Linked DNA regions of Homo sapiens. The protein of the gene in region 2 purifies or fractionates together with the protein of the main gene of each other region. This does not show direct contact. Each region holds a gene or a part of one and is shown on either strand. Other genes may lie near its edges.

Region 1 (3,745 bases), on a different chromosome or scaffold from region 2:
TTTATAAGAATTTTAACTGTTAACATGTAATTAATTTATTATTTTTAATATTTAAATTAATATATAATTTAAACTTTCCTTAGTTTTAAACATTAACAAGTAACATAGATAAATATAACCTAGATAAATAAAAGATCTTTGGGATTTTCAACAATATTTAACACTGTTAACAGTATTCAACAATATTTAACAATATGTAATAATGTCAAGCATTGGTCTTGAGACCAAAGCTTTTGAGAACCTCTACCCTAATCCATGAGGGATAGAGGAAGGAAGAGAAAATTAATCTGAAGATTTAAGACTTAAGAATCAAATAAAATACCTGATAAACATCTATTACTATATTTTAAGATTAAGGATTATAAATATAGTAAATAAGGACACAGAAACTGCTATAAGAATTTAGATGAATAATGCTTCAGGGAGGAGGTAATAGTTGAATAACTAAGTGAATGAATTACTAAGCTAGGGTATTGCAGTAGAAAGAGACAGAATATAGATTTAAAACAATCTTGGAGGTAAAAACATGCTTTAGGAAGTGATGTGATTCAGGGGGGCCAAGAGACATCAAATACAATTTGGAGACCATGACTCCAAGGTGACAATAGAAAATGATTAATAGAGAAAGAATATATAAATATCTTTTTAACTAGAAAACATAGAATGGAAAATATGTTTAGAAGAAAAGAAGACAAGTTAAATTTTAGATTTATTACATCATAAGTACCTGTCAGACATCCAAATCAAGATTTCTAGCAGTTGATTAAAAATGGGAAACCAGAGATTAGAGAGACATAAACTGTCTTTTCATCTATGTAAGAGGTAGAATGTAGATGAGATTGTTGAAAAGATAACAAATTTCTGCATATATTTAAAAGGTTCACTTTTCATATTTGACATTTTGTTTTAATACTGTAAATATGTTTATATCAGGAAATCTGATTGTATGAAACAAACAATTCAGAAAAGAATGAATTAGCAGTTCAAAACCAGCATACTCCAAGGTTATTTAGTGATCTCTATTAACATACATAAAATAATAATGTTTCTAAAATGAGATTCACAACATACTTTTCAAAAACACATCTACAGGAGTTATACAGGTACTATTGAATAGCCACGTTATAATCAGGTTTTATTAATGTTTATGTTACCTCTCTGTCTAGCTGAGATGATGTTGTGGTGATCACGCCTGTAGTTGGATGCATAGAAAATAGGGTGGGTGATGGTGGCACCTGCCCAATGATGGAGTACTTCAGGCGTGTGTGCATCGTGTCAGGCTCATCTTTGTCAGTAGCACACACTTGTCCCACAGTAGTGCCTAGAGAAGAAAAGTCCTTTTTAATCTCCAAAACATTCACATGTTCTATGTTCCCTTTATTTCATTCCTTTTCACCCACCTCAAAAAAGTTCTGGACCACATTATTACATGGCAAAGTCATGGCTTTTATAAATTTGCAGACCTCTCCATACAGTATCACTTCCTTTCAAATATTCTGGCATACTAGCATTTTCGAATTGGGTGATCATATTCATATTTATTGTATTTAATGTATGATTTTATAAATGTTGATACTATCCCTCCATGTATTTTCAGACTAAACAATTCTGATTATTCTATAACTTTTCTCTGTTTGTAAGCTTGTGCTTAGATTGATCATAGGAGTCAGTTTTCTCTAAAACTGCATGGTTCACTTAGACATTTCTAGACAAGGTCTCCAAAACTGCATTCTGACTTTTAGTTAAAACAGACCATTTTCACAGGGCTGAGAAAATGTTTGTATTATTCTCAGTGACTTTCATAATCGTGCCCAGAATACTGGCAATCACATTTAATCCTAGAGAACATCCGTACATATCTTTAAGACTACATCTCCAATTAGTGAAAGACTTATTCTTTTTGGGCTATGTTCTCTTACATCCATCCATCCATAGGATGACAGCATAACATTTATTAACTCCTATTTGTCAGGCACTGTGCTTGGCATTCGCTGTGTATTGAGCTTCACTTCATCTTCATAACAATCTGGCATACTGATAACCCATTTTACAGATGAAGAAATTAGGCTTGCCAAGATTAGGAAATTTGCCAAGCATCACACAGCTAGTGAAACACAGAGTAAAATTCCACCCAGAGTCCCTTATTCTTGCTGCTGGGATACGCTGCTTCTCAACGGACATAGTGAAACTAAATGTATGAATTGAAACACAGTTAATTTGCCATATATTGTTTAAGGAGGTACTCACCCACTCTGCAATTTTCAAAAATTGTAAAAGTATAAGTTTCTTCTGTAAAAATTGGGTAGTTATCATTTTCATCCTCTATTTTGATTATTAGGGGCAGTGGAAGTTCTGGAGTATACCCATCTGGAGTTGTTGCAAAGGCAATTATCTGTGAAGAGAGTAAAATAAGGAGAAAAGTGAAAATAATCTTTTAAAATGAGGTATGCTTCAAATTCATTTTGGCTTTAACTTGGAGACTGTTCAGAACTACAGTATGAGTCTCACCATTTGTTATTGTTCTGGGATATGGATATAATTTTAATGCCAAAGAGGTGCCTAATTTCATGATTCAATATGGCATTGTATGTTTAAATTTATCTCTTTAAATTTATGAAAGATAATTTTAGTTTCTTCATTATTGCTATACTGTTATTCATGAGTGTAACAATTTTTACTGTTATTTTCCCAAACAGCCTTGAAGACTTCTTTATTTTGCTTTGTTTGAAAGGTTCAGGTGCATGGATTTTAAATACAACTTTCTGGATCTTTCTGAACTTGGGATCCTGTAGGATTACCCAGGTACAGTTAACTGGGATATTATCCTATTTTCTACTAATGAGGACTTTAGGCATATCAATGGTTACATTTGGGTAAGTCTTTTCAAAGAATTTTTAATTTAAAAAGGGTGAATCAGAAATGAAACAAATGAATGGTGGTAAACTGTGGTGGAATACAGTTTAATTTTTTTGTTTTTATAATATGAATTTCAATACCAATTTTCTCATAACAGCTATCATAGAAAGGCCAGAACATCCTAGGTACTCAGAAGGCCAGGCCATGGCAATTCTAAACCTAAATACTTTATTCAAAGCTTGCCTGTCTTATTTGATTAATTTGGTCTTCTAATGAATAATTAATTCATCCAAAATAGACATAAAATAATTAAAACTGACTTAAGCAAAATGACCAAGTCCTGTTGGGAAATCAAACCAGCATTAGGTTAAATTCTTTCATATTAACTCACTTTCCAGCATAGGAAATTAACCAGATGATTAAAGGACTGAGTAAGCTTAGGTAAGCACTGTCACACCCCCTACCTGCTCCCCATAAACTAATGCTCTCCCATTGCCAGGGTACTGAGGTTTACTTAATGACTGAACTTCATTTACCTCCTATGATATCTCCATACTATAAAGAGGTTCACAGATCTTTTTGTGCCAACTAAGTAACTGTTCTTGGCCGGGCACGGTGGCTCAGTCCTGTAATCCCAGCACTTTGGGAGGCCGACATGGGCAGATCACCTGAGGTCAAGAGCTTGAGACCAGCCTGGCCAACATGGTGAAACCCCATCTCTACTAAAAATACAAAAAATTAGCTGGGTATCATGGTGCGTGCCTGTGATCCCAGCTACTCAGGAGGCTAAGGTGGGAGGATCACTTGAACCCCGGAGCCAGAGATTGCAGTGAGCCGAGATTACGCCACTGCACTTCAGCCTGGGTGGCAAAGTGAGATGCTGTCTCAA
Region 2 (6,045 bases):
CAGGGGCCTGTTCTTCCTGCATCTTTTGCTGGTGGCTGTGATCTTCGGAAGCAAGTGGATAAACGGGAGCATGTGAAATGCGAATCTCCACGAGGCGTTATTTGTAGCTAAATATTCTATTCAATGGGTAAGATGGTTTTGAGAAATCCTAGTTTACAACAGTTTATGAAATCATGAATTTTTTTTCTCTATTTAACGTGAAACTCCCACACCCAAACTAAGGGGACTATATTTTCCATAAATGGGAATTCTGTCTTAATCACTTGCTGGTAAAAGAGAGATCCACTCCCTTCCCTTGGACCCTTAGAAAATGTGTGACTTATTTGTAAATGTTCCTGATATTGAAATACATCAGTACGTTCCCTGTCCCCCCATGTCAGAAATATATGTATTCCTCCATCCATTTTGAATCACCTTGAACACAGTAACAGTAATGGATGTTAAGAAAAAAAAAGGTATTAGGAAACAGCCTCCCAGGGAAGTAAAGAAGGAAGCAGTATCAGCTGGAGACGTTAACATCTCCAGAGAACTATTTTCCCCATTTGCCTTAGTAATTGGATTTACTTGATTTTCTCTTTAGAGCATGGAGAAGTTAGCCCTGTCAGGGAATCATATGATAGTTTACTTTTCATAAGACAGATCCATTCTTCAGTTGTCCCCTTCTTCCCTACTCCTTCCTGCTTAGCTAATACAACAGCAATATGAAGAACCTTCCCATTCACAGAGGGTGTGTCCAAAAGCATCTGTGAGTCCCCAATTCATTGAACACTAGTATATAACAATCTCCAAAGCACGACATTCTTAGCCTTTTCAGTCTTGTTGATAGCTTTCTAACTGAGGGCATTTCACAAGGAAAGAACATTTTCACGTCTCAGTTTCTGCATAGATGGGATTGGGTAGAGAAAAACCAATGCCCTGAGATACAGATGCCGGACGTCAGCTGGGCTCATTCATGCAGCAATTGGTTTGCTCTTGCGCACCAGCCTTAGGTAGCACAAATGTGTGTCTCAGCAAAATTGCTAAAGACTGCATGTCATGGATTCCAAATAATCCTCAAGAACAGTCAAAACTGTGCAAATTAAATTTGGGAAAATATTTTAACACTAAGCTTGAAGACTCCAGAACCACTTATTTTTAAATCAATCAGGGTAGAGGACTAAGCATTAGGAATTACCTTGATGATTCAAAAGGATTTCCTCAACTGTCACAAAGCTTACCACAAATTAATATATCTCTGCCTCTTGAGACCCTGTGTCTTTCCCCAGATATTCACCTGCTACTTTGAGCAGCAAGCTTGTTTCTCCACAGTAGTTCCCATCCTGGAAATGGCACCAGTATTGTCCATTGTCGGAGGGCTGGATGTTGTGTATCTTCAGTGCCACATTTCCCTTTGCAATGCCATTCTCTATCCACTCTACCCAGCCTCTGTACTCCTCCATCTGCATCTCAGTCACCTCCACTCCATCCCTGTGCACAAACACAGGTGTGCTGGGCTCTGAGCGGTACCACCTCACCTCCACGTGCATTGTGGTCCTCTTGGGGAGTAGCTGGCAGGTTAACAGGGCATCTTCCCCAACCCCGGCCAGGATAGGATGAGCAGGGCCAATGACTCTAAAGTCTTCTATAAAATAAGTGAAAAAGAGGAACGAGGAAATGCCAATCAGAAAATCATATGCATGCTTTGGGGTGTCCAGCCTGTCAAAATGGAGGCAACTAGAAGAGGGAGAGATATATGTTTAATGTTTTAGAGAAATCCAGCATGATGATTTGCACATCTGTTTGTTACAGAGTCAATTTTGTGTACTGAAAACAAATGCAGTTCAAAAATGTGGGTGAGGTTGCTGTCTGTCACCTACCAGCTATGTGATTCGGTGGCAAATCTATTACTCTTGGTAAGATTTTGAGATTTGAAGTCCTAATTTCTTCATCTTCAAGATATTAATACCAGCATACCTGGGTTGTTTTTATTCTCAAGTAAATTATTTATTCCTTGAGTCATTTATTCTCATGTAAATTGACTTTTTAAATTGGAAACCTTATTCTTGTTATTAACATTTTATTTTCCTGAAGTTTAGATAATAAATCCATTTATTAGCTTTTTTTAGCCTTTCAGGATTCCTCTTCTCTTAGATATAAAAACTGTTTTTTTTTTGTTTTTTTTTTGTTTGTTTTTTTCCCGTCTGGAGTTGGCAGGAGGCCAATTACTGGGACTATGTACAATGCAGTTTTCACAAGGACATTTTGTGCTGGATTAAGGACACTGGTTTGTCTAGAGATTTTTGGGTCTTCCAAACAAATTCTAAGACATGTCTGATCTCTTCCTTGTTATCTGCAAATTGAAGAGATGTTTAACAGTTATGTATGTTATTATGTTTGATCATTTTATGTCATGTATGATATGTTCTTTCTCATTCTAAATGCTCCGGGGCCATTTGCTCTTTCTCTGTGCAGATCCAATCCTGCTAGGAAGAACCTCACCCTACTTAGCTGCTGCTGGGTATCAAATAGATGCTGCTCAAAAGGTGGCTAAAGAGCCTAAGTGGAGATCTGCTTGTATTCTTCATTGATGAAGTCTAAATATGAAGCTAGAACTGAAGACATTCCATCAGATTGACTGTTACAGGGTAGGGAGCTGCAGCACAAGCACAGAGAAGCCAGCAGCTTCATCACATCACACCAGCTCTGCAGCGCCAAGGCAGACACACCAGCTCTGCGGCACCGAGGCAGACACACCAGCTCTGCGGTGCCGAGGCAGAGCCTGCGCCCTCTGATGCTCTGTGTCGTGTTTTTTCCCACTTCGCCATGCTGCATTTTCCTTAGGGCTCTGACATCTCCTTCTGACACTGATTTTTTTTTTTTGACACTGAATTTTTAAATAATTATTTTTCAAGGTGCAACATTTTGACGTCAAAATTCAGCTAGTGAGATTTCCAAAGTCCCTTTCTTCTAATTTCTTATTTCCAAGTATTTTTTTTAATTGCAGCTTAATTTATGATAAGAAGCAGCTGCATTTCTTGACCCCAAAGTACTAGAGTGAATTAATAATTTAACGTGGTGCAACCACTGATTCAAGTGCTTTTAATGTCTCATTTAATCCTAAAGCCTGTGCTGGCCTCTGAGATGTAGTTACTGCTGTTATTCTCATTAAAAAGATGAAAGAACTAAGGTATGAGGTGCTCAAGTAACTTTCCAAAGGTGACTCAGCTAGGAGTGGAGGAGCTCCTGGGAGTGGAGGAGCTCCTCAAAAGTGAGGAGTTCCTTTTTGGATACAGGTGGCTTGGCCCCAGACTTACACTCTTAGATGTTGTTCTCGACCTTTGGACCCAGACTAGCTCACTGGGACATTAGACTATACAGTAAAGGGAGAAGGGAATCCTACCTGACTGCTTCATTGTCAGCAGGATGAATAGGAAGGAGGCGACTGCACCAGACAGATTGTAGCCTGGAAAATCCACCATCCTCCCTGGAACAAAGACAAGGAAACGCTGTGCCTAAGTGAGGCTGTGACACACCCGGCACACTCCATGGCTTCCATTGGTTATGCAGTCTTAGCAGAGAATCCACATCAACCCCTGCACAGTCAGTGAAATGGGCTTGGCTCCATTTCTCTGCAATTACTGATCACATCCAACCCTTTACCTAACGTGTTATATTGTGAGACAATGTAGCAAATGTAAGAAGCCTTGCTTGCTCATTTCGGCTTGCTAGCATACTTTCACAAAGCCCCTGCTGTGATGACCTGCAGTTCTCCAGAAAGATGCTTCAAAGACAAAACAAGATTGAGCACACGGCCTCCCATCTCTCTTGCCTGAGTCACTCTACTCCTTAAAAGATAAGCAATAATAGTCCTTGCCTTTTCCTACACATAAGATAACGTCTGATTGAAGGATACCTCTGTAACCTATAACCAGATCTGCTCATACACCCAAACGTTGATGTAGTTCGGCTTCAATGTAGCTTCTGAGCTAATTTGATGTAGTGGTTAATATGTAACCTCCTGACATCGAAAAGGATATGGATTTGTTTCTGAATCATAAAGTTTTACTGATTGTTTTGTGCATGAAATATTTTAGTCTATATATTGTCATCTGTGTCCAATGATTGTAACCTCTGTATTGTACCCTCCAGTGAAAAAAGACAACTCCAATATGAAGAGCCCCTTTCTTTCTGCCTGAACTTCCTTACAAAAGCCTTCCAACTTGTAACAGACTTTGGACCACCCTCAACTTCGTTGGTGTGTCTTCCTACATCAGTCCTGACATTTGCCTTCCAATAGAACTTTATGAAATTATTCCTGCCTCAGCAACCCTAATTTCATGAGACAATATTTTAAGCAATTTTTTAGGTGTAAGGAAGTCTTGTGACTGAAATGAAAAAACACTTGAGGTAAAGGAACAATAATATTAAAAAAACCCCAAACCAAACCAAAGCAAACAAAACTCCTTAGGTTCATCTGTTGTGAGCTTGCAAAACTTATAGAGCAAGATTCAAATATTTTTTCCTGTCCTCCTCCCAACTCCTCCTGCAAAGCCTTTCTTTACCACTGTTTTCTACACATGGAGGAAAGGGCAGGAAGGCTCTGCGTCTCCACACTGCAGCCAGAAAGCCAACATTCAGTGCTAGCGCTCAGAGAACCCGGGACACAGAGATGCCGTGGAAAGTGAAAGAAAGAGTAGTAGAAAGATAGTCGGGAAAATATCTGTAAGTGGCCTTTTAGAATAGACTTAAAAACACGAATGAATTAAAAAAACAAAAAGCCCAACTGGCAGAAACTGGCAAACCCAGCAACCCCACTGTCCCAGCTGAACAAAAATACTTCACACAGCTAAAAACTTTAAAACTTACCAGGACAAGGATAGAAGGCTAGTTTTACCATTGAAAAATACAAACTTCAGAGTGAAAGAAGTCTAAGACTTATTATATGTGATGTGTCAAGTATTTTATTGAAAGAAAACTTGCTTCACACAAAGTAGAGAAACCAGCTCAGGAGCAATGTCAAGTCAATTACAGTTTCCCCCTTTCCAAGAAACTACTGCTAGTAAGATTTTATGGGACAGGGGTAAAAATCAACATTCTGAAATGGAGATTTAACAATCAAATGAGTCAGGAGATTGTTGTTACACAAATATTGCCCATTTGCTTTATAAAAAATATGTACTTTCATATAAGATATCTCTAAGGAAACTTATATGAGCCCATTCACAATACCTAGATCGAAAAGGGCAGTATGATATTTATGTGAAAATGGGGTTGGGTGTTAGAAGACAGTGCAGACCATGAGCACCTTGCCACCTGAAACTTACCAGTCACCTCCCCTTAGACTGAAGGGTGTTGCTGATGCCTCCCTGACTCCTTTTGTGAAAAGCAGGAACATTTTTTTCCACCAAGTAAGAGTAAAGAAAGCCCCACAACATCCATACCAAGCATGATTTCTCAGCCTTGTGAACTAAAATGAACTCACACTTGCTACAGACCACTTCAGAGGCTTGCGTTCCTGTAGGTCTTTCATGTCAAAGCGGTGGGAGGGAAAATCTACAAGTGAACTCTCAAAAAAATTGCTCAAATCAATGAAGCTTTCGAAGAATGTTGGGAGAATCCATCTCCAGTGCTCAGATAGACTGTGAGAGAATATATCAGGGAGGATAACCACCTTGGACCAGGGTTCTTAATGGGCAAAGAGGCTGTTTTGCCCTTAGAGGACATTTGGCAATGTCTGGGAACATTTTCAGTTGTCACGACTGGGGGAGGGGACATATATTGAGTAGAAACCAGGGGTGTTGCTAAACATTCTATGAGGCACGTGGCAGCCCCCACAACAAAGAGTCATCCAGCCCAGAAGGCCGGTGGTGCCGAGGAAATGCCCTGCCACAGGGTTTGCTGTCAGGATGCTGAAAAGCTTTGGCACATTTTTTGAAAATAGATAACTAGACTTAAATTGCCATCTTTAAGTAAAAACCTTTTAAAATGATAAGCTTTTGACCCCTCCGTTTTACTATTTGGATGTAATGCAAGAATCTTCTGAAACTGCTGTTCCTATTAAATATA

The links. The genes of interacting proteins can lie anywhere in the genome.
Region 1: the proteins of BTNL2 (region 2) and DSC2 purify together in Homo sapiens (affinity purification with mass spectrometry; one large-scale study listed by BioGRID and IntAct). This does not show direct contact.

What each region holds. Positions count from the first base shown.
Region 1 is NC_000018.10:31,085,422-31,089,166, forward strand, and holds part of DSC2 (desmocollin-2 isoform Dsc2a preproprotein), read right to left. Parts: intron 2,393-3,745; coding exon 2,248-2,392; intron 1,322-2,247; coding exon 1,155-1,321; intron 1-1,154. UniProt on the Homo sapiens protein: A component of desmosome cell-cell junctions which are required for positive regulation of cellular adhesion.
Region 2 is NC_000006.12:32,403,666-32,409,710, forward strand, and holds the start of BTNL2 (butyrophilin-like protein 2 precursor), read right to left. Parts: upstream 3,517-6,045; 5' UTR 3,459-3,516; coding exon 3,380-3,458; exon of another isoform or gene 2,452-3,379; intron 1,893-2,451; exon of another isoform or gene 1,789-1,892; intron 1,622-1,788; coding exon 1,274-1,621; intron 1-1,273. UniProt on the Homo sapiens protein: Negative regulator of T-cell proliferation.